Homo sapiens: one gene and its partners. The protein of the gene in region 3 purifies or fractionates together with the protein of the main gene of each other region. This does not show direct contact. Each region holds a gene or a part of one and is shown on either strand. Other genes may lie near its edges. The genes, in order: FH, ALAD, ISOC2, APIP, HBS1L, GTPBP1 and IFT172.

The links.
Region 1: the proteins of ISOC2 (region 3) and FH fractionate together in Homo sapiens (co-fractionation; one large-scale study listed by BioGRID). This does not show direct contact.
Region 2: the proteins of ISOC2 (region 3) and ALAD purify together in Homo sapiens (affinity purification with mass spectrometry; 2 studies listed by BioGRID and IntAct, with this or other methods). This does not show direct contact.
Region 4: the proteins of ISOC2 (region 3) and APIP purify together in Homo sapiens (affinity purification with mass spectrometry; 2 studies listed by BioGRID and IntAct, with this or other methods). This does not show direct contact.
Region 5: the proteins of ISOC2 (region 3) and HBS1L purify together in Homo sapiens (affinity purification with mass spectrometry; 2 studies listed by BioGRID and IntAct, with this or other methods). This does not show direct contact.
Region 6: the proteins of ISOC2 (region 3) and GTPBP1 purify together in Homo sapiens (affinity purification with mass spectrometry; 2 studies listed by BioGRID and IntAct, with this or other methods). This does not show direct contact.
Region 7: the proteins of ISOC2 (region 3) and IFT172 purify together in Homo sapiens (affinity purification with mass spectrometry; one large-scale study listed by BioGRID and IntAct). This does not show direct contact.

Annotation. Positions count from the first base shown.
Region 1 is NC_000001.11:241,506,256-241,509,755, reverse strand, and holds part of FH (fumarate hydratase, mitochondrial), read left to right. Parts: intron 1-970; coding exon 971-1,153; intron 1,154-3,500. UniProt on the Homo sapiens protein: Catalyzes the reversible stereospecific interconversion of fumarate to L-malate. Experiments in other species have demonstrated that specific isoforms of this protein act in defined pathways and favor one direction over the other.
Region 2 is NC_000009.12:113,388,549-113,391,284, forward strand, and holds part of ALAD (delta-aminolevulinic acid dehydratase), read right to left. Parts: intron 2,386-2,736; coding exon 2,250-2,385; intron 2,129-2,249; coding exon 2,045-2,128; intron 1,946-2,044; coding exon 1,857-1,945; intron 1,281-1,856; coding exon 1,225-1,280; intron 1,139-1,224; coding exon 1,051-1,138; intron 977-1,050; coding exon 890-976; intron 559-889; coding exon 429-558; intron 1-428.
Region 3 is NC_000019.10:55,452,485-55,455,563, reverse strand, and holds the end of ISOC2 (isochorismatase domain-containing protein 2), read left to right. Parts: intron 1-185; coding exon of another isoform or gene 186-233; coding exon 234-304; intron 305-457; coding exon 458-575; intron 576-2,175; coding exon 2,176-2,256; 3' UTR 2,257-2,579; downstream 2,580-3,079.
Region 4 is NC_000011.10:34,906,380-34,909,879, reverse strand, and holds part of APIP (methylthioribulose-1-phosphate dehydratase), read left to right. Parts: intron 1-3,500. UniProt on the Homo sapiens protein: Catalyzes the dehydration of methylthioribulose-1-phosphate (MTRu-1-P) into 2,3-diketo-5-methylthiopentyl-1-phosphate (DK-MTP-1-P).
Region 5 is NC_000006.12:135,044,823-135,048,322, forward strand, and holds part of HBS1L (HBS1-like protein), read right to left. Parts: intron 1-3,500. UniProt on the Homo sapiens protein: GTPase component of the Pelota-HBS1L complex, a complex that recognizes stalled ribosomes and triggers the No-Go Decay (NGD) pathway.
Region 6 is NC_000022.11:38,712,444-38,715,943, reverse strand, and holds part of GTPBP1 (GTP-binding protein 1), read right to left. Parts: intron 38-3,500; coding exon 1-37. UniProt on the Homo sapiens protein: Promotes degradation of target mRNA species. Plays a role in the regulation of circadian mRNA stability. Binds GTP and has GTPase activity.
Region 7 is NC_000002.12:27,479,744-27,483,243, forward strand, and holds part of IFT172 (intraflagellar transport protein 172 homolog), read right to left. Parts: intron 1,518-3,500; coding exon 1,303-1,517; intron 407-1,302; coding exon 283-406; intron 1-282. UniProt on the Homo sapiens protein: Required for the maintenance and formation of cilia. Plays an indirect role in hedgehog (Hh) signaling, cilia being required for all activity of the hedgehog pathway.

The DNA of each region.
Region 1 (3,500 bases), on a different chromosome or scaffold from region 3:
CACCCAGGCTGGAGTGCAGTAGAGTGAGCATAGCTCACTGCAGCCTGGAAATGCTGAGCTCCAGGGATCCTCATGCCTTAGCTTCCTGAGCAAGTGGGACCATAGGCATGCACCGCCATGCCTGGCTAACTTTAAAAATGTTTTCAGAGACAGGGTATTGCTCTGTGTTGCCCAGGCTGGTCTTAAACTCCTGGCCTCAATTGATCCTCCTGCCTCAGCCTCTGAAAGTGCTGAGGTTATAGGCATGAGCCACTGCACCCAGCTTGATATTATGTTTTAAAAGTACAGGGTCAACAGTTGAGGAAAGAGCACTGAGTATATACTACCTGGCTAGGTCTCAGGTTTGCCAGTTGCTAAATATTTTGGCATTTATACAGTCTCTTTGAGGGCTTGGCTTTCCTATTTTTAAAGTGGTAATCTACCTCACAGAATTTTTCTAAACTTAATAAAGAGCTGTTTATGAAAGACTGTATGCACTGTATAATTGTAAGATATTCAATTATAAGATTTTATAAGAATATATAATTCAATAATTGATGTAATTTGATATAATTATAAGATATTCAACTACATTGAAGATACTACTGCTGTCTTCAAGTGCAGTTGTTAACTATACTTCTCTGTATTTTGCTGTCATTTATTAGCAGGCAGATATAATACGTAATACATAATATAATACATAATATATTATATAATACATAATATAATATAATACGTAATACATATATAATACATAATACATTCAGTATACTTAATGTGTATAATACAGTTCTGAGTATGTGTTAGAAACCAGGATGCTGCTTATTTGATTCTATAATAACTCACCTATGACATGCCACACATACATGTAACTGAGCTGGGTTTTGAGTAGTTAGTTGGAGAGTTTTTTAATTGAGAAGTTTAATTCAGAAGTTTGTTTTTGTTGCCTCTGATTTAACATTTTATATTTCTTTTGAAAAATTTCCAACAGAGCTCAAATGATACTTTTCCCACAGCAATGCACATTGCTGCTGCAATAGAAGTTCATGAAGTACTGTTACCAGGACTACAGAAGTTACATGATGCTCTTGATGCAAAATCCAAAGAGTTTGCACAGATCATCAAGATTGGACGTACTCATACTCAGGATGCTGTTCCACTTACTCTTGGGCAGGTATAGGAGTTTGACTAATTTGATTCAATTTAGAGCTTGGTACAAATGGCCAATGTGTCATCCTTGAAATCTGACTAGCTTAAAAGGCCAAATTTGTAACCGGAAACTTCAGTGACAGAGGTTGTTCTGTTCAACCAATCAGTAATTTTCATTGACATCCACTTAGAAGAAAAGCAGAGTATACTGGCTATAAGTCAGATTCAGTCAGACTGCTCGGGTTCAAATCTTAGCTTTGCTGTGTACAAGCTATGGGACCATAGGAAAGTCATTTAGCCTTTCTGTGCCTCAGTTTTCTGAGCTACAAAATGAGGAAAATAATTTCCCTTTCATAGGATAGTTGTGAAGCTCTAGTAAGTTGATTTATGTAGAGTGCTTAGAAGCATGCCTGGCACACAGTAAGTACCCATTCATGTTAGCTACCATCATCACCACCGTCATCGCTGTCATCTCCATCAGTATCATCATGGTTTTTCTTTTGTCTTTCTTACCTAAATTAGTAGGTTATTTAAAATTTAATCTCAAAGTGATTAAATAAGGTAGATCTTTTTAAGATGGATCTGGCCGCATGTGAAGGAGATACTACTCTCTTCTCCAAGATATTAGAAAGTATTTTCATGTTTCTTTTTCAATGCCTTAAGGAATATCTAATAGTATACATTGTGAAGGAAATGTAAGGAAATACAGGGAATGACTTTTGTCTTAGTAAACTCACACTCCAATTGGGGTAGCTTAATTTCCTTATGGAAGGAATGAGGAAAACTTGAAATGAGTAATTGAAAAACAAATGATGGGACTAAATTGAACTCACTGGATTGAGTTGCTTCTTAAGGCTGTGTCTCATTTCTCTTTGCATCATTAGTACTTAGGACCATGCATAATTTCTAAGGAGGAACAGTATGTATGTTTTGAAACTTTTGAATATTTCTCAAGTTTCTAATTTTAACCTTTTTTTGGTGTTGAAAACTACAATACTAAATACCATTTGGGCCATGACTCAGCCTCCTGTGTAAAATCATCATTCTTCCTGTTAAGACAGAAAATTACATTTTTCTGTTTGACTTTATCAGAAGCATTTATACTTGCTTTTATTGGGATTGTCTTTTGAGTTCGTGCATTGTTCCCTGTCAAAGTGTATTTTATAAGTGAATCTATCTAGTGTGTTTGTGTGTGTGTGTATACATACAGTCATGTGTTGCTTAGCAATGGGGGTATGTTCTGAAAAATGCATCCTTAGGCAATTTCATAGTTATGTGAACATCACAGAGTATACTCACACAAACCTAGATGGTATAGCCTTCTATACACCTAGGCTATATGGCATAGCCTTTTCCTCCTAGGCTACAAATCTGTGCAGCATGTTACTGCATTGGATACAATAGGCAATCGTAACACAATGGTAAGTATTTGTGTATCTAAACATATCTAAATGTAGAAAAGGTACAGTAAAAATACGGTTTTATAATCTTAGGGTCCCACTGTTTATGTGATCTTTCGTTGGCTGAAACATCATTATGTGGTGCGTGACTGTATATGAGTGATGTTATATCAGATGCATCAGGTCTACCTATAATGAGTTATATCTTTTGAAATGTTTTCTTTAGAACAGTATGGCATCCTGTCACTTATGGTTTTTTAGTGTTTTCAGGCAGGAAAAAAGGATAGATTTAGTGTAACCATGTATCTTGGTTTGTCCAGTTAACTCCCAGTGTATGCCTTTTGTTTCTGCATGACTATTAATAGAGCCCTTTCTGTGTTCAAAACATAAATTCTGTGGTTGCTTTAATTAAGGCATGTCAAAATTTGGAACCAGTGTTGACATTGGCACATTGATGCTATGATCTGACTCTACCGTTACCTCCTATTCTTTTTGGAAGGTCCTTCAATGCAAACTGTTACCTTCCTGTGCTATTCAGTGAGTCATTAGCTTCCCAAGTCTCTGTAGAATGTCTTCATATTTCCTGGTAGGTTTATACACTGAAATTGTATGGAGAATATTTCTATGTTTGCATTTTTTTGGGGGAGATGAGTTACTATTTTTTCTTACACCAAAGTTGTCTGAGGCATCCCAAAAAATAAGAAATCACTTCAGTTTCTTTAGTAGACTGCAAGTAAACCAATAATTTAGTGTAGTAAAGTTGTTCTTTTTAAAGTGTATTTCCTGTGCTGTTTTTCTTTGCTTCCTATTAAAAGACTAGATTATAATAAATAGGCTGCATGTTATCAGTGGCATTGTCGTACCTTATGGTTCTATAAACCCTCATCCTTCCCTATACTTTGCTCATCATAAGATTTGAAGTAGTATAAATAAAACTTGATTAGCTTGTAATTTAGTATTCTGAAAGGTATT
Region 2 (2,736 bases), on a different chromosome or scaffold from region 3:
GGCCTCAGTTTACCAAAGAATAAAATGCACAGTGAAGGAAATAGGTAAGAGGCAAGTTCCTTCCCATGCTGGTGTGCAATTCTAACAAAATGAGTCCCCTTTATGGAGTGATATTACTTCATTTAATCCTCAGGACAACCACGCACCAGGTATCTTATCCCCAGTTATCCAGTTATGGGTGAGGACACTGAGGTTCAGAGAAGTGGCTTGCCCACGTTCTCACAACCAAAAATGAAGGGCTCTGCTTGCTTCACCGGGCCGTGTTCTATGCTGCAGTTCCATATCTCTTCCTCAGTGTGTGTCTGTTTAGATCACTAGTAATTCCCGGAATAAGATCCCAAGCTCTCAGGACGTCGTTCCCCAATCTAGGCAGAGTGCTTATCAGTCCCTGTGGCGCAGGTCAAAACACCCCACCCTTGCCTGCCTACCTGCTCTGCGGAAGGCAGTCATGGCCTCCAGTACGGCAGCCTTGAGATCAAATGCCCCGGCCTGGGCTCCATGCCACAGCATGGCAAACTCTCCAGAGACGTGGTACACGGCGAGAGGGAGGTCAGGGTGCTGCAGGGAAGCAGACAGGGAGACAGGCTGAAATGGAGGGTGGATGTGGCTCTGGAAGCGTCCCTTCCCCCCTGCTCAATCTGTGACCATCTTGAGCCCCGTGTCCTGGGTTACTGCGGCTGGCAGCCTGGCCCACTCTTGAACTGTTAAAGCAGGGCTGTTTGAGGCTCGTGCAAGCCCCGACATAGAAGGCCACGATGGTTCCTGGGCAGGGAAGGGGAGGAGAGGATGCATGCTTAAGGGCAAACTGCTTCCAACTCTGAGATTCCAGAGTCTGTGGAAAACTCTGTCCCAGCCCCCTGAGCCCCCTTTGCCTCGTACCTGTGCTCACCTTGTCCTTTACCTCCCGCACGATGTCCAGGTAGGGCATTCCCGGCTTCACCATGAGCATGTCAGCTCCTTCCCGTACATCCCGGTCCTAAGGGATGAGGGTATAATGTGGGTGGTGCCTAGGAGGGGGCTGAGGGTGGGGCTCAAGTCCTAGTCACTCACCACAGCTCGGAGAGCCAGGCCTCGTGCTCCAGGGGGCAGCTGGTAGCAGCGGCGGTCCCCAAAAGCTGGGCTTGACTTAGCTGCATCCCTGCAAAGCAGAGTCATCAGGGTGGGCTCCAGCTTTGGGCCAAAGGGCCAGGGATTCACAGCAGACCCCTGCCCACCCCTGCTCACCGGAAAGGGCCATAGAAACAGGAAGCAAATTTGGCACTGTAGCTCATCACCGATACCTATGGGGAGACAATGGAGGTCTTGGCTTATTCGGCCCTTGCCAGGTATCCCAGGGTGATGTGGCAGGGAGAGAAAGAACCTAGGCTGGGAAGGAGACTGCCTGTGTTCTGGTCCTGTTGGAGTGCTGGGCTTGATTTCCCTGCAGAGGCCCAGAGGTTTAAATGGTTCCCCAAAGCCTCATCCAGCACTGTCTTCAGTTCTGTGATTCTTTTTTTTTTTGAGATGGAGTCTAGCTCTGTCATCCAGGCTGAAGTGCAGTGGCATGATCTCAGCTCACTGCCTCGTGGGTTCAAGCGATTCTCCTGCCTCAGCCTCCCCAGTAGCTGGGATTACAGGCGCCTGCCACCACGCCCAGCTAATTTTTGTGTTTTTAGTAGAGATGGGGTTTCACCATGTTGGCCAGGCTGGTCTTGAACCCCTGACCTCAAGTGATCTACCTGCCTCAGCCTCCCAAAGTGCTGGGACTACAGGTGTGAGCCAACACGCCCGGCAGTTCTGTGATTCTTAGCAGACACGGGGGCAGGGCTGGTGCAGACTATCTCCTGCCAGCCCTGTGCTGCATTCCCTGCCCTTACCCTGTTGCCAAGTCCATGTGCCATCAGGGCCTCTTTGATGGCTTCCACGCGTCCATCCATCATGTCCGACGGGGCTACCACCTGACATCCTGGGGGGCAGAGGGTGGCCTTCAGAACTCTGGGGCCCTCCTAGCCACTCTGCCACCTCCTGACCCAGAGGTGCCCATCCCTGCTGGTGGTTCACTCACCTGCCTTGGCATACGCCAATGCCACCTCAGCCAGCCGCTGGCGGCTCTCCTCAGCCCGGAATGCTCCGTTTTCACTCAGGAGCCCTTCAGGACAGATGACTGGGTTTTGGGGAGCACCTTGGGCCCTGGCCTGTCCCCACCCTGTTGAGAAGTGGGCAGTAGGAGTGTGGGTGGCAGCAGGGCTGGTGGGAGGGAGGGAACTCACCGCAGTGACCATGGGAGGTGTAGGGACACAGGCAGACATCACAGGCCACCAGGAGGTTGGGGAAGGTCTTCCTCAACAGATGGATTGCCTCAATAGCTGGGGACTCCTCGGAGTCAGCTGCGGAACCCCGCTCGTCCTAGGGGCAGGGGAGGGACAAAGCAGTGTGTCTATTACATGTAGCTTTGGAAGGCAGGATGACAGCCATCACAGAGCATAGCCCTGGCCTTCTCCTTCCTTCATCATCACAGCCCCTGGATAAGGAAGCACAGAGGACTGACCCTACATGGGTGCTGACTTAAGGGCAAAGACCACGTCCATTCACCTGTGGCCCCAGGGCCAGCACAATGTGGGAGTGAGGGTGCAGTCAGTGTGGACCCTCAGTCCACCTTTGCCCAACCTCCCTTCCTTTTTCTGTTTGTATTGGAGACAGGGTCTTGCTCTGTCACCCAGGCTAGAGTGCACTGGCGCGATTTTGGCTCACTGCAGC
Region 3 (3,079 bases):
CTGACCAGAAACCTCCACTTCCCTGCAGGACCCCCATCCTGACCTGGGCCCTCTCTCCTCACCTGTGGGCCCCATCCTATCTTGGATCCCCTCCTGACCTGGGGGCCCCTTCCTCTGATCCGAGCCTCCCTCCTCCCCATTCTGGGCCCCTAATTCTGACTCACCATCCCCAATTCCTTACCCAGGACCCCCGTTCTTATCCGGGGTTGGCCCTGACCTCTCTCTACCCACAGAACACGACCCTGGACCTCCTAGACCGGGGGCTGCAGGTCCATGTGGTGGTGGACGCCTGCTCCTCACGCAGGTGAGAGGGCCCCTGCCTGGGTGGGTGCACGTGGGGGCCATCAGGGGCTCCCAGGAAGGGCCACAGGCGGCATTCCCACCAGGGTGCCTGCGTGTCTGGGTGTCCAGACTGCGGCGTCCACACCAACCTTCCCTCCCTCCCTCCCACTCACAGCCAGGTGGACCGGCTGGTGGCTCTGGCCCGCATGAGACAGAGTGGTGCCTTCCTCTCCACCAGCGAAGGGCTCATTCTGCAGCTTGTGGGCGATGCCGTCCACCCCCAGTTCAAGGAGGTAATGCCCGCCTGGCCGCCCCCACCTCCCCTGCATCTGTCAAAGGTCTTGTCTTTGGGCTCTGAGAATACATCTCGGCACCAGCAGGCTGCCGCCTCCAGGGGGAGCCAGGTTCTTGGAGGGGAGGCTGCTGGTCACTGTCACTGCCATAAATCCATGAAAGGAGCCCACAGATGGACCATAAGGGCCACAGAGAACAATAAAATGGGGGAGGCAATCCAGAGGGTCAGGGCACAGAGGAGGGGGTTTGTATTGGAGGGTCTGGGGGGCATCCTGGAGCAGGTGACTTTAGAATGAACTGAAGGAGGGAGTGACCAGGCGGACACTGGGGAAGAACAGGTCAGCAGAGACCCTCTAGATAGAAGCCCCTTGACCCGTCCACACCCATCTCCAACTCTCCATCTCCTCCGCCTCTGCCCCTTCCGGCCCGGGTGCCCCTCCTCCAGTTTCTCAGACTCCACTGGCCACCCTGCTACCGGGGTCAGCCAGGTACTGGGCCCCCCTGCTTCAAGCCATTGGCCCTCAGGATGCTGGAGAGGCCCCAGACCTTGACATTCCCAGGCCCTCCCAGGTCTGCTCCTTACCTTCCTTCTAGTTCAGCTCTGTGGGACATTCACCGAGCACCCACTCTGTGCCAGCCACTGTGGTGAGCCCTGGAGTCTGCAGCAATCCATGTTCAGTGACACATTGTGACCCCCAGCTGGGGCAGGAGTTGCAGAGGGATGAGCAAGAGTGGCAGAGGTGGCCCTGAATTCTGAGCTGCCGGGGAAGGGGGCATCAGGCACTCACAGTGTTCCCAGGGGAGGGGGACTGAGCTTTCTTTGAGGAGCTGTAGCAGGCCAGGGTGAGCACCACGCGGGAGGAGCCAGCAGCCTGTCTTCACGCAGGAGTCAGAGCCCAGAGGTTTGAGATTTCAGCCACGGGCAGCCATCAGGGTTTGATGCAGGGGAGCTGGCCATATCAGATCGGCAGTTTACAAAGTTCTTTCTGGCCCTGTGTGACCAGTGGATTAGGGAGTGTGGCATAGAGGGGAGGAGGGAGACCTGTCAGTAAGGAGGTTAATTTGGGCGCCCAGGCAAGCGGTGATGAGGCAGGGGGGATGCAGGCTTTTTTGTTGTTGTTGTTGTTTATTTATTTATTTATTTATTTTATTTTCTGGAGATAAACTTGCTGGGACTTGCTGATGGATGAAATGCGGTTGGTTGCTCATGTCTATCTAAGAGGCAGTTAGATAGATGAGTCGAGTTCAGGGGCAAAGTCCAGGCTGGATTTGTGAGCTGAGGGCCCAGAAGAGGGATGGGAGAAATGAGGTTACTTAAGAAGAGGAAGGTGTAGACAGGAAGCCCCAGCACAGAGCTGTCCACCCTTAGTGGTCCAAGCCCGCAAAGCACACCAAGATGGCAGGCAGTGAGGAGCTCAACCAGTCACGTGTAATGAAAGGGAGGCCCCAGGAAAAGTCTTGAGAAGAGGGAGTGTTGTCTTGGGCAGCTGCTAGCCAGAAGGTCCGAGAGATGAAGACGGAGAGGTGTCCCTCAGATTTGTCATCCATGGAGATCGGGACCCTAGACGCTTCCTGACCCATCGCCCCCTGCCCTTACAGATCCAGAAACTCATCAAGGAGCCCGCCCCAGACAGCGGACTGCTGGGCCTCTTCCAAGGCCAGAACTCCCTCCTCCACTGAACTCCAACCCTGCCTTGAGGGAAGACCACCCTCCTGTCACCCGGACCTCAGTGGAAGCCCGTTCCCCCCATCCCTGGATCCCAAGAGTGGTGCGATCCACCAGGAGTGCCGCCCCCTTGTGGGGGGGGCAGGGTGCTGCCTTCCCATTGGACAGCTGCTCCCGGAAATGCAAATGAGACTCCTGGAAACTGGGTGGGAATTGGCTGAGCCAAGATGGAGGCGGGGCTCGGCCCCGGGCCACTTCACGGGGCGGGAAGGGGAGGGGAAGAAGAGTCTCAGACTGTGGGACACGGACTCGCAGAATAAACATATATGTGGCTGTGGACCAAACCATTCTTGGGTTGGGGGGGATCCCGGGGGCGACTGGGGGCTGCAGGAGGGAGAAAGCGGGGTCCCCAGCAGGTGGGGGGGGGGAGGTGCCTCTTCTCGGCGCGAGGCAAAGGCGAGGGCTGGCGGCTGACACATCTGCACGGACGCGGCGCATCTGCTCGGAGGAGAACTGCGGCCGGGGTCGCCCCCAGCCGGCGCGCGCACGCCCAGCCCAGCTGCCGGCAGACACGCGCTCCGCCGCCGCCTCCGGCCGCCCCCCACGCCGCCACCCCCGGCTCCCCAAGGGTCCCGCATCCGGAAAGCGAGGTGAGCGAGACCGCACCCAGGTGCGGAAGGGAAACTGAGGCAAGGGGACATGGAGACGGGAGGAAGGAAGACACAGCCATGTGGATGGGTGGATGGATGGATGGAAGGATGGATGGACGGATGGAAGGAAGGGCTGAAAGCATTGTAGTCCCGGCTCCCCCAGACGCAGGAGTTCCGGGACCCACAT
Region 4 (3,500 bases), on a different chromosome or scaffold from region 3:
CCAGCTTCTCTCATTTCATGAAAGGCAAGAAGCCCAGTTCCTCCACTAGAGCTCAGGATCTCCAAGCCCTCTCACCTTCTATAATTATTTCTCTCCTTCTCCCCGTGTCTCCTATTAGGAATCATTTCCTTTCTGGTAAGACTGTTGTCATCAGCTTTCAAGCCCTTCCACATCTTGCCCCTACAAATTTATCTTCCGCCACCCTCAGCACTTCCTCACTCTGCTCTAGCCAACTGATCTTCCGCCTGTGAAGTACTTGCTCACTTCAGAGCCTTCACACCTGCTGTTTCCTCTGCCTGGAGTACTTGCCTCTCTCAACACAAAACCTTGCACACACACACGTACTCATTCATCACACACTGGCTTAGTTCATGTCTTTTAGGTCCTAGATTAAATGCCACCTGCTCAGAGAGGCCTTCCTTGACTGCGTTAATCAAAGTTGATCCCTGCCGTTTTTCTCCAAGTCCCATGTTTCTTTCCTGCTTGGCACTTTTTACAGTTTATTTATGTATTCTGTTTACTTTTTAAAAACTCCTCCCCAGAGTGTGAATTCTTTTAGGTCAGGCCCTGGGAATTCAGGTCCAGTTTATAGCTGAATTCCCAGGGCCTAGAAGAGTGTTCAGCACATGGTAATGTTTCTGACCCACATCCCAGGGAACGATATCATCCACTCAGCTACTCAGCTGACCACACACTTGGGAGTCTTTGAAGCCTTCGTTTGTCTCCTTCAGTTTTCTCACCCCAAGTCCTTCATCTTCCAAATGCATCTTCACAGTCCCTTCCTTCCAGCTTCCTTTTTAAACTCTTTCAGCAGCCTCCCTGCTCTTCTGGGCTTTTGCTTTCTTGACCACTGCCTTTCAGCCTCTTTCGTTTACTGACACTGTGCAAATGTTTCCAAAACAGACTCTTATCACATATCTTACGTTTCAAACTCTTTGGTGGTTTTCAATCATCCATGAAATATAGGTCAAAGCCCTGTGCATAGCATAGAAGACCCTTTAGACTCAGCCTCCCTTTTACCTCCATCCTGCAGAACCTAATTTATAACCACTTCCAGCTACTAAGCATTCTTTCTGACTGAAATGCCCTTTCTCCTCTTCACCTACCCAGCATATACTCCCACCGTCCTTCATTAAGACAGATATAAGAAATACCAACATAGAACAGACTACTGGTGTTAATTCAGAAGTCTGGAGATCACTGATCCAGATTATTAATAGAAGGAGACTGATGCCCAGAAAGTATCACTGACTTGCCTTAGGGCACACAGCTAGTGGGGTCCAAGCTAAAAACAGGCTCCATGTCTTCTGATTTCTAGTCAACACTTGACTGATGAGGAGGAGGAGGGTTTTTAAGTGTGGTGAAGGTAGAAGAGAGAGCTGGGGCATTCAAGTAAAGAAAACCAAGATGCATAGAGAGACAAGTGCAACAAGTGTGCAGAATGAAACGAAGACCAAGGACAGAGAGAAAGTATGACTCATCTTTACTGTGCCTGCATTCAGTCCCTTCCTGAGCCCAGTGTCAGGAAAATAAGTGAAAGACTTTGAAACAAACAAAAAGAGTATTTACTGGGTATCTTGGAGTTATTATTATGCTATTTTACAACTCTCAGTTGTGGAATCCTGGCAGTTAACGCAGGTGATTGTTGTTCATGGAAATGCAAGTTGTGTTCAATGGAGATTCATTTTATTGTTAACCTGTGGACAGTATCCAGTTTTGCTAAGTCAGGATTCCTCGTTACTTATATTATGTATGTTTTGAATTCTCCTTTTGAATCAGTTGTAACATCTTACTAGTTTCCCCATTTATTGATGAGTTACTAATCTCATGCATGTTATTTTATACTTGTATGAGAGTCTTCCAGGAAAACCTGTATCTGAGGAATATATGCCTATATTTGCTTAAGTTGAAAGAAAAGATGGGGGAGGGGATTAGAGCCATTGTTGGCTGTGAGTAGTATCTCGGAGACAAGCCAGGCTGATTTCCTTAAAATAACTAGATTGAAAAATTGGAAAAATTAATACCAAATCAAAACTTGTTAGACATTAATGATTTTGATATATACAAAATGCTGTTAAATGTGTTTCCTCCTCACTGTAGAACCTCTACTATAAATAGTTGATTGTAATCAATCTTTAGATACACATTTCAAAATTATTATTATAACTGAAAACCAGATCTAACAATAATAGGAAAGTAATATTGACATTCAGGAGAGAACTAGATACCAATTGAACCTTTCCTTCTTGTCAATTCTTGTTAAAATATATGTTCTGGTAGTTACTTTCTTCTGGACAGTTTAAATGACTTCATTTTCACCAAGTATATCTCTGTTGGTGCCTGCTAAGTGATAATCTCTTTGAAATTTTAATTTTATGGGTCTCAAGGATTGAAAATGTATTAACAGCAGCTGCCTTGTCATTGTTATTGCTTTAGCTTGAAGCTGGCTAATTGCTGTAATATCGCAGCACTGGAAAAGACAAAAGAGAAAGGGGAGACCTGTAATAAAAGACCATTTTCTGTAATGTGTGCTATTTGCTGTGCAAATTGATGGTTTTAAGGGTTGGAAGACTGCAGGAGTCTTCCCATTAGCTGTACTTTAAAATGTAGTTAAAATATCACTTATATCCCTAAATAAGGAAGTAGCAAATTATACAGGCATAGGTAATTTGGGCTAGATTTCTTAAGGACGGATATAAGAAATACCAACATAGTTTTTCCTTAATAACTCCTGTAATATTCCCTTCCTGAGGAGATGTCACCCTAACTGCTGTTAGGGGGTTTTGGGCAAGAACTCTTTCTGGCTACTTCCTGCCGAAAAGGGACATCAAGTGGGGAACAACAGCTAGGGCTCCTCCTGGGGTTGATCTAAGGGTCCTCGGAAGAATGGCACGTCCACGTGTGGTTCGGTTTGCAGCACCATTTGGATTGATTGCTTCTAGGCAAGAGGAAATGATTTGAGTTATAGTATTGAGTATGCAAGGTCCAAATATTAATACAAGACATATAAGTAGGAGTGGACTTAATAAAGGAGCTAACCAATTCCATAAAGAAGACTAGAATTCATTAAAGAGGAATTGTAGCCACCCGGGGCTGAAGCCTGCGTGTTCTTGTAGCCTCTTAATGATTTTGATTTGATCTTTAGGTAGCTGTAGATTTTCCTCTGCTTTACTAGAGGTGTTAATCCAGAAGCAGCATGTTTCATTTATAAGTGCACAGGTACCTCCTACTTCAGCTGTGAGGACGTCTAAGCCCCGTCTATTCTGTGCTGCTACTGTGGTGAAAGAGTCTGTAGATTGCTGTCGTGCCTCTATGGTACCTACAGTTGCCTTCCACCCTTGTTGCATCATAATAGAAATAGTAAGTACTGATCTTTCAAGGAGAGGGAAGCCCGTAATCCAGACTAGACCTCTGGCTATAGAATTTCCCATTCATGGTTTTTCTAAGATGGGATTGTCATGTGCATGCCCTCCCCAGTCTGCTCTTTCAGTTAAATCTCC
Region 5 (3,500 bases), on a different chromosome or scaffold from region 3:
ACTAAGTGAGGCATGAAATCAGATGTTTCCCTCAACAAGTTTCAGTCAGGAAATACTGACAGGGAAGAGGAAGTTTTCAATGCACAGGCTTCTCCTCTGCCTGCCAGGAGCTATTTTTTCTGTGGTGGGGTCGAGGGTGGTCCTATACGACCACACACACCCAACACATAACTCCAACTCAAAAACCCATACTGTGGCCACTATTTTGGAAGTAGTAATGGTTGGATTTGCAAAGGGTGGGTGGGGGGAAGAGTAAGAAAACTCCCCCAGGAGAAGTATTGGGTCGCTGCAAAAGTAACCGCAGGTCTTTCCATTACTTTCAAAGGGTGGGTGGGTGAGGTGGGGAGCGGTCCAAACCTCTGAAGTTGTACTGAGAGCCCCAAAAGCAACAAATACAACAAATAAAGGAGTGAGAGAAAGTAATGATGAGAAAATGGTAAATACAAAATGCTATTCTCTAAAATTTTAAATCACAAACTTTGATGGAAGTGCCTTCTGAAAAAACAGACACCTATAATTTTTAAAATTTAAGGCATTTTGACAAACATAAAAGTGCAAAGAATTCAAAACCTAACACCTGAAACTTCCTACAATGGTTTCCTAAACATCTTAAAATAAAAATCACATGAGGCATTCATTAAAAATACAGATTTCTAGGCTTCTTCCCCGGGAGATTATGACTCAGTGGTGCTGGAATGAAGCAGGAAATTTGTATTCTTAAGAATTATTCTGGCCAGGCACAGTGGCTCATGCCTGTAATCCCAGCACTTTGGGAGGTCCAGGCAGGTGGATCACCTGAGGTCAGGAGTTCAAGACCAGCCTGGCCAACATGGCAAAACCCCATCTCTACTAAAAATACAAAATTAGCTAGGCGTGGTGGCGGGCGCCTGCAATCCCAGCTACTTGAGAGGCTGAGGCGTGAGAACTGCTTGAACCTGGGAGCCAAGTGGAGGTTGAGGTGAGCCGAGATCGTGCCACTGCACTCCAGCCTAGGCTACAGAATGAGACTCCGTCTCAAAAAAAAAAAAATGATTCCCAGCAGATTCATATCACAAGGTAAGATTAAGAAACACTGGTGAACTACAAGTCTCCCCTTTATTCTGGCCCACCTATACGCCACTTTGTGGACCATGATCAGTTATCTGCACAAAATACTAGCTCCCTTACTCAAAAAACTCCAATAAGTTGACACTAAAAACACAAAATTAGAAACTGTCTTTCACAATTTCATTCCTATTTTCTTTCCTAGCCCTCTTTCCTCCTGCCACTTGCATTAATCCTGGTAGTCTGATGAAACAAGCCTCACTCAGAGGCCATTGCTTAAGCAACGTTGTTTCCTCTAGCTGGGATGCCATTCTTACTCCCAAATTTCCTAGCTTCAATCCCACCTCCTTCTAGAAGCCTTCCCAGACTCCTTCAGTCAGGGTTATTTTCTTTACCCACAGTACTGTTGTAGCAAGTTATTTGAACAAGACTTTAAACAAGCTTCCTTATACCAAACTAATTTATAAATGTATTAGAATAGTGTTTTTCTTACAAAAAAAAAAAAGAATATACAATAAAGGTGTGAAATTAGAATGGAGCAAACAAAGATTACTTCTAATCATATTAGCTGAAACAAAATACATCACCATTCAAATAAAGTTTTATATGCAAACTCCTTTTGCTACCCCCTACTCTTTGACATAGGTTCAATACTCAGTATCAATCTTTCTAAAAGAAAGAAAAGTTAACGTTTAAAAATCACCATCCTAGGCTGGGCATGGTGGCTCACACCTATAATCCTGGCACTTTGGAAGGCCGACACAGGAGGATCACTGGAGCTCAGGAATTTGAGACAAGCCTGGGCAGCATAGTGAGACCAGGAAAATTGAGCTTAATAGAATTCAAAAAAATATACACGTGCTGATGAATTTTAGAAAGAAATTCCAATTAATTGATAAAGTCTTTCAATTATCAGACTTCATTACACCATGAATACAATCAGCTTTTCAATGACATTAGCTGCTTAAGAATAGAAAATATTCTTCTAAAACCATTCATTTTTTATTGAAAATTACTTGGAAAATATACCACTATAGAGGAAAGTAAGTTTCTTATCTGATGTTACTGCTATTTTAAAATGTTTTGAAAAATTTAAAAATCCAAAGTCGTATGCTTTTGTTAAAAATCAGTTTGTCACAGAAGAAACCAAAAACATTTAACTATCTCCTGCTTTGATAAGATCAGTTGGCTTCTTGGTGTGTTTGAAAAGTAACTCTCAGAGTCAGACTGTCCTGAATACAAACCACAGGTAAGAGCCACATCAAAAGCTATGAGAGACACATGGATAAACTCCGTCTCTGTCCTCAAGGAAGCTAGGCCATAAATGCAAGTCTCAGAGAAACACCCTTTGAAGGTCTGACTTTGTACTATTACCTTATTATTCAAGATAACATAACATTTATCCAGAGAAGCCTAGATAAATGACTGGGTTAACCTGCAATATTAAGGTGTCTTTCAGTAATCCCCCCTCTGAAAGATTCCACGCTTATACAAAGCCATATTCAACCAACTTCCAAGTCCTGCAGACCTCAACTCCTGTAAATTTTCTCTTGAATGTATTTCCAAATCCAATGCTACCAACTCTTGCCCTAAACAAATGGTTCTCAATGCATACCACGAGCATACCCCAGTGGGCTTGTTAAAACATCTGCTATGCCTCACTCCTAGTTTCTGACTCTTGGGTGGAGTCCCCAACATTGCATTTCTAACAAACTCTCAAGCGATGCTGATGGTTCACTTTGAGAACACTGTCCTAAAATAGCCTCATCTCCTCTAGATAAATACATATAACAGTCTCCTAACGAGTCTACTTACATCCACCCATATACCACCTTTAATCCATTAACTATGTATTAGAGATTTTTTTAACTCAAATCTAATATAACCATATCATCTTCTCAGTTCTATATGCCATGCTCTCTAATGTGCTTAGAATGTGAGTGATGAGGATAGCACTACCAGACATCACTTTGTCACCTCTAATATTTAAGTTACCTAGTCAACTGTGATGCTGAATTATAGGAGCCCCAAAGGGCAAATGCCTAGGAGGTTCCTAGAAAAATGTGAAATTGTTTTATTCCTAAGTCACTACAAAATGTCTTCTCTTTTGAACCCCTGAATAAGGAGCTATAAAGGAATGCTGCTTATTAAGCCACCTCTCAGCTTCTAACCTACCATCCTTTACTCAGCTTTGTGATGCTGGATTGAAGTCACTGCAAAGCACATTTCTTCTTTGATACCCGGCTCCCTTTTAGGATCATCCAATAAGGAGATATGAAAGGGACACCGGAAAGCCAGAGAAGGCAGGCACATGCTCCTTTCCTTTTGCTTCTTGTTCCAGTATCACCCCAGCAATACTCACTTCACCTTCCAGAAGCAGTTTCTTCCAGTAACTGCAATTAATATCCGTTTTCAGTTTTTCCAAAACTCCCAGAACCAGCTTCAATTTGCCTCTT
Region 6 (3,500 bases), on a different chromosome or scaffold from region 3:
TCCATGTCAGCTTCACTCAGCCCATACTCAGTCCCATCTGGTGACAAGAGCCCAGACATCAGCAGGAGAGGGAGTCCTGACCAACCAGCCTGCCAACCAGCCAGCCAGGAACCCCACCTAACAAAGGCCACCACCCCCCGACCCCAGCACTGCAGAGGAACAGGGGTCCTCTCTACCTGAGAGAAAACCTGGGCACACACCAAGTTAAAACATGACAGTGCCACAGACCTCTCCATCAAGCAGAGCATTCGCTACTTCATTCAACAACAGCCACCGAGGCTCTCCCAGGTTTTATGCCAAGCCTCATGCTGGGTACTAGGACTACAGGTGCCCCTAGTGAGCTCACAGCCCAGTGGGGGAGGCAGACAGGAAATTAATTAATTGCAATACAGCTCAAGTGCTGCACTCTAGGACTGTGTGAAGAGAACATAAAGCACTGCCTGGGGAAGCCGAGGACAGTTCTGCAAAGGGCTGATGCCAAGCTAGGTCAACAAGTGCTGGGCCTGCAGAAGGAGGAAGGACATCCTAGCCAGAGGAACAAAGCGTGGCGTGGCAGATCATGGCAAGTTCAGGGACCAGGAAGCAGCTCAGTGTGTTGAGGAGCAGCATGGGTGACATGGAGTGTCGGGAGACTACATGAGAGGTGGAAGCAGCACAACAGACGGACAGCAGCGACACACCTTCTGCACCAGGCATTGAGACACCCGTAGGCTGAGGCAGGGGAGTAACATGATCAGATGGCTGTGGGTTAGAAAGATCTCCTGAGTAGCAGTGCCAAGTGTGCACCAGCAAGTGAGAGACCAGTAAGGGGGGAGTCCAGTTAGGAAGTAATTCTAATAATGCAGGCAAGAGATAATGACGACAGAAAGATGGAGGAAAATGGGGGAGGAACTCAGAAACATTTTAGAGATAAGATTTTTAACTGAGGTGGCTCAGGTGACATGTCCAGCAAGCAGCTGGAGAAATGAGTTTGAGCTCAGGACAAGGAAGGGAATCAGACAGAAGGCAGGACCAACCGACCAAACAGTTACTGAGCTCCTACTATATGACAACCCGTCAGCTGCTTTCCATGAGGTGCTGGATTTAATTTCCACAATCACTCCCTCAGCCTTTCCCAGCTGTCCTGTCTCTGAGAGCACCCCTGCTCCTTCCCTGGCTGGCTAACCCCTTCAGCATGTGTGACTCTCTTCCCCCGCACCAAATATTCTCCTTGTCTCTTCTTCTCTTCCTCCCACTCCAAACAAGCTCCTAAACTAAGGAAAGGAAAACCACCCCCCTTCCCTTGCCCCTGCTTATCTGCAAAGCTACCATCTCCTGTTTTTCCTTTCACCATCAAACATCTCGAGAGTCATCAACGCGTGTTGACTGTACTATCCCACCATCTACTCAATGGGAATCTGCCCACTACAGAAGAAACCGCAGTTGTCACATGCCACCAGTGGCCTTTTTTTTTTTTTTTTTTTTTGAGATGGAGTCTCACTCTGTCACCCAGGCTGGAGTGCAGTGGCACAATCCTTGCTCACAGCAACCTCTGCCTCCCAGGTTCAAGCGATTCTCCTGCCTCAGCCTCCCAGGTAGCTGGGATTACAGGCGCCCGCCATCATGCCTGGCTAAGTTTTGTATTTTCAGTAGAGACGGGGTTTCACCATGCTGGCCAGGCTGGTCTCGAACTCCTGACCTCAAGTGATCTGCCCGCCTTGGCCTCCCACCAAAGTGCTGGGATTACAGGCGTCAGCCATCATGCCTGGCCCACCAGTGGCCTTCTAAACTCTCTAATGCCCTCTTCTTGACTCCTACAGCATTCGATACTGCTGGCCACTCAGCCTTTCCCTCTTGAAGCACTTCCCTCCCACCCTGCTCACGCATCACCTGACCTCTCCTGATGTGCCTCCCCACCCCGTCCCCCGCTCTTGTCTCCTGAATGCCAGTTTTTTCCAGTAGTCTGTCAGTGGCCCTGTTCTGTTTCCTCCAAACTTTCCCCTTGGCCATCTTGTTCTATGGCTTTGGCTGTCATTTTGAAAACTATAAAAACACTCATTTCTAACACCATCCTATGCCCAGAACTCCAGACTGAATTTCCAATTGCCTGGATAACTCCTAGAAGTCTGATATCCAAACTCAACACCCAACCCAACCCTCTTTTAAACAACAGCACAGACACTAACAATGTTAATAAAGCATTTTATTTCTCACTGTAATCTTATGAGGTAGGCATTACTGTTCCCTTTTAACAGTGGGGTAAAAAGAACCTAGGGAGATCTCAGAGCTTGGGGGAGGCCATGAGTTCAGGTCTTCAGATTCCAAAACCAGAGCCTTTTCCTCTTACTGCCTGACCAGTTCCTTCTTTATTTCTGACAATGACAATACCATCTCTCTAGCCACCAGTCTCCTCAGTCCAGTCCTGATGATTCTAGCATTTTACCTTGCCTCCTTCCCTGATGTCTGCCCTTTTTGCCAATCCGCAGCCACCAGCCTGATTCAGGCTGTTATTCTACCTGAACCACCACAACAGACTCTTAACTTTTGTCTTTACAAATTCAGTCTCTATTCCCTCCAACCAACCCCTTAAGGTCCTAAATAAAGCACAACTCTGACGCCGTCACTTCAAGTCAAAGCTTATGAATGGCTCCCCAGGCCCAACTGCTTAACAGCCTCCCCATTTGTGCCGTACTCCCTCCTCACTTTCTTCTTGTAAGCTCTGTCATGGTGCAAGTGGCCCCATCACACACACAGCACTCCCCTTCCTTGTGCTGGGGTTCTCTGCAGGGTCCTAGCTCTACACCTTTGCTCATGGATTTCCTATCCTGAAAGCCCAACAGCGCACCTCCTCCTAGCAAAATCCTACTCATTCTGCCCACAAATGTCTGTGTCTCCCTTACATTTGCAATGTACTGCCTTGTGCAACAGTGTTTTGGATACACATCCTCCCCTCCCCGCACAATACATAAGCATCTTGAAAACAAGGAACATACCGCAACAATTTCCTGATGCCCCACAACCAGTGCCTTTCCTCAAATGTTTGTAAAATGTAAAACAAATGAACAAAGAGGGAGCGGTTGGGCTGAGGAGTTTCTAAATGCACGGCAAAGTGAGCTGTGAAAGCCTTCAGGGTTAGAGAAGGGTTTGCTGGGAGTGTTCCTAAGAAGGCTGGCTAAATTCTATTCAACCTCCCCTGCTCCTGTTCTTTCAGGTCCTGTTCCACACCAAGGGCTATCACCAACGTCACCTTGTCCATCAGGGCTCTCGGTCAGTCACATTACCCGTCTCCAGCATGCATCACATTCCTCACTCTGTGGAAGCCGAGACAAAGGTGGAGGAGAAAAGCTGCAGAGGTCCAATTACTAAAGGCCACATACTCAGCCATGCCAGACGCTAATCAGATTTCCATCCTGCCGGCTCATTCACTTTTCTTATATGTATTCTCCTCTTCTACAGGCTGCAAAGACTCCCTAGACTCTCAGAATAAAAGTCTAACCTCTTTGGCATGGCATTTAAGGACC
Region 7 (3,500 bases), on a different chromosome or scaffold from region 3:
ACCAAAAGGAAAGAGGCTACAATCATTGGACTCAAGGGCACAACATATTAATGGGATAAAAGGGAAAAACTAGCCCTGCCTACACACAATTTTTTGTCCCTTTTGTGACCTAGGGTAAAGTATGAATTTCTCTTTCCTGCCTTTAATGCCAGAATTTTAGGTCAGGGTCAAAAGGAAAGAGGAGATTCTATAGTGTCAGGGAACAGTGCTTTAGGATAAGGCAGGATTTTTTTCTAGTTTGGTGAAAGTCACCAATCCAGAAAGGGATTACTAGTAACACACCACACAGAGCCGTGAGCCATCCCGCTTCCAGGCCAAGGCAGTGATGGTGTATAAATTGGTAATCTCCTTGGGCTTTGCCTCTTCCCAGATGCTTCTTCGAGGGATCCAGTTGAACACCCGAAGCCTGAAATAAAGTATGTGGCTTTTAGAAGAGATTGAGGCTGAGCTAAAGAGTGCAAATGGGCTGATAACCAAAGGAAATTAGTCTTGCTATATCAGAAAAGAAAGGAAATAAAAAGAACAGACAAGCTAGGCAGTCTAGCAGAAGAGGATATAAAGGTGCACAGGAAATAAGCTGGGAAAATCAAGGCAAAACTAAAACAGAATAAGAGTGAGGGGAGCAGAGAAAACAAAAAGACCAGGGCAGGTGAGAAAAATAAGCTACTAGGAGCAAAAAAATATGGAACAAGGAGATAAATGGTAGGAGTCAGTGAAGAAAGAAGAGAATACAAGGAGACATAAGATTGAAGGGGATAGAAAGACAGGACTGATAAAGCTGGGGTTAAACACATGCCAGAGAAATGATGAGACCTGGAACATGGCTGTTTATCTGCTGTTCCATCATTCATTCATTCATTCGCCAAACATCTGAGCATATCTTAAATATATATAGCATATAGATGCTAATCTAGGCACTGAAAAGATGAATAATAAGCCCCCTTCTCAAGGACTCTGATTTAGCCATCTATCTGGCTAAACAACAGTAGTTTGCAAACAACAAACTGTAATATAATGTGAGAAACTCTAAGCGGTCTCAAAGGGGGCAATGGAAACAGAAAATAGAGATGAATTCTGCTGTGGAAGTGCAGGGAGCGGCACAGAGACAAAACAAGAGCCCAGGACATTTTGGAACTGCCAGCACACCAATGGATAGCGGGAGCAGGAAGAGGAAAGCGCATGAATTACATACATACATTTGATTCTGCTCCAGTCTCGCACTCTGGCTCAGAATAATTTGGCTAAAGCAGAGAGTGTTCGCAGGGAAAGTAGGCAGTAGATAAAACTGGAAAGGGGACTTACCTGTCATAACTTCCTAGCACAACAGACTGGCCCCCAGGACTTGATACAGCTGTGGTGAACTCCCGCTCCTGAGGGTCACGGCTATAATCAAAAGTTTGTAGCATGTGACCTTCTTTTCCATAGGCTACAATTTTCCGATCACAGCCTGCAGCCACGATGCTATTGGTTGCCCATGCCAAGGCATAGGGTGGACACGGGTGGTTAACCAACTTCCCCTAAGACAGAAGTAGAGGGTTTCAATCACTCTTCGAAGACTCCACCCGAGAAATTCCTCACTCTCAACACCTGGTACATTCACTCTGACCATCATACCCTGCAGAAATCTCTTCCAACATTTCCCTATCCCAACACATCCTAATCCTGAACTCTTCACAAATTGTCACACACACACACACACACACACACACATACACACACACACACACCCCTATACACATAGGGGTTGACCTTGTGCTCTAGAAAAACCTCAAAATGCTTGTATATTGGAATTTTCTTTTTTCTTTTTTTTTTTTTTGAGACAGAGTCTCACTCTGCCGCCCAGGCTGGAGTGCAGTGGCACAATCTCATCGCTGCAACCTCCGCCTCCCCAGGTTCAAGCGATTCTCCTGTCTCAGCCTCCTGAGTAGCTGGGATTACAGGTGTGTGCCACCATACCAGGCTAATTTTTCTGTTTTTAGTAGAGATGGGGTTTCACCATGTTGGTCAGGCTGGTCTCGAACTCCTGACCTTGTGATCAGCCCGTCTCAGCCTCCCAAAGTGCTGGGATCACAGGCGTGAGCCACCACGCCCAGCATGTATTGGAAATTTTTAATATGCACCTGGTAAAGCTCCTCAGAAAAGGAGATGTGCTACACATTAACCAACACCGTCTGGGCCCACAAAGAGCATAGGGCTTCTTTTTTTAAGGAGGGTCAAATTTCAGTATTATACGAATAATTCTTCTTTTTTTTTTTTTTTAGATGGAGTCTCACTCTGTCGCCGGGGCTGCAGTGCAGTGGCGCGTTCTCACCTCACTGCAACCTCCCCTCCCGGGTTCAAGCAATTCTCCTGCCTCAGCCTTCCGAGTAGCTGGGATTCCGGGCACGTTCCACCATGCCCGGCTAATTTTTATATTTTTAGTAGAGACGGGGTTTCACCATGTTGGCCAGGCTGGTCCTGAACTCCTGACCTCAGGTCATCCACCCGCCTTGACCTCCCAAAGTGCTGGGATTACAGGAGTGAGACACTGTGCCCGGCCTATACAAGTAATTCTTTTTTTTTTTGAGATGGCATTTCACTCTTGTTGCCCAGTCTGGAGTTCAATGGCATGCGATCTTGGCTCACTGCAACCTCTGCCTCCCAGGTTCAAGCGATTCTCCTGCCTCAGCCTCCCAGAAAGCTGGGATTACAGGCATGTGCCACCACGCCCAGCTAATTTTTTTGTATTTAGTAGAGACGGGTTTCACGTCAGGCTGGTTTCCAACTCCTGACCTCAGGTGATCCACCCGCCTCGGCCTCCCAAAGTGCTGGGATTACAGGCACGGCTCACAAGTAATTCTTAATGTAAATGATTCAAACAACACACAATTATATAGAGTAAAACATGAAAGTTTCCTTTTTATCCCCCATCTTTTTCCTTTCCCCTTTCCAGAGTAAACTATTAACTCTTTTTTCTATGAATCTACATACATAAATATATATATTTTACATAAATGGGAATAATTTTCACTTTTCATTACTCTAAGAGTTTTTATTTCCCTTTGTCTCAAGGTCCCTTTCACCTAATTCATCCCTTCTTATAAGCAGTAAGCTCCAGGCTCCTAAACACAAATCCTCTCAGTGGCCACATCCAACTTTTTCTCTGTCCCTGAGTTCTCCTCTAGCTTCCTCTCTTAGTATCTCAATCCAAATGCCTTAGAAGTCCAACCTCCTCTAGGAGGGCTCCTGGAATTTCCTTATCCCCTATTCCACAGCATCTTTTTTTTTTTTTTTTTTTGAGACACGGTCTTGTTCTGTCACCCAGGCTGTAGTGCAGTGGTGCTATTTCAGCTCACTTGCAGGCTCAACCTCCTGGGCTCAAGTGATCTTTCCACTTCGGCTTCCTGAGTAGCTGGGACTACAGGCCCATGCCACCATGCCCGACTAATTTTTGTATTTATTTTTTGTTTTTTTGGTAGAGACAGGGTTTCACTGTGTTGCCCATGCTGGTCTCAAACTCC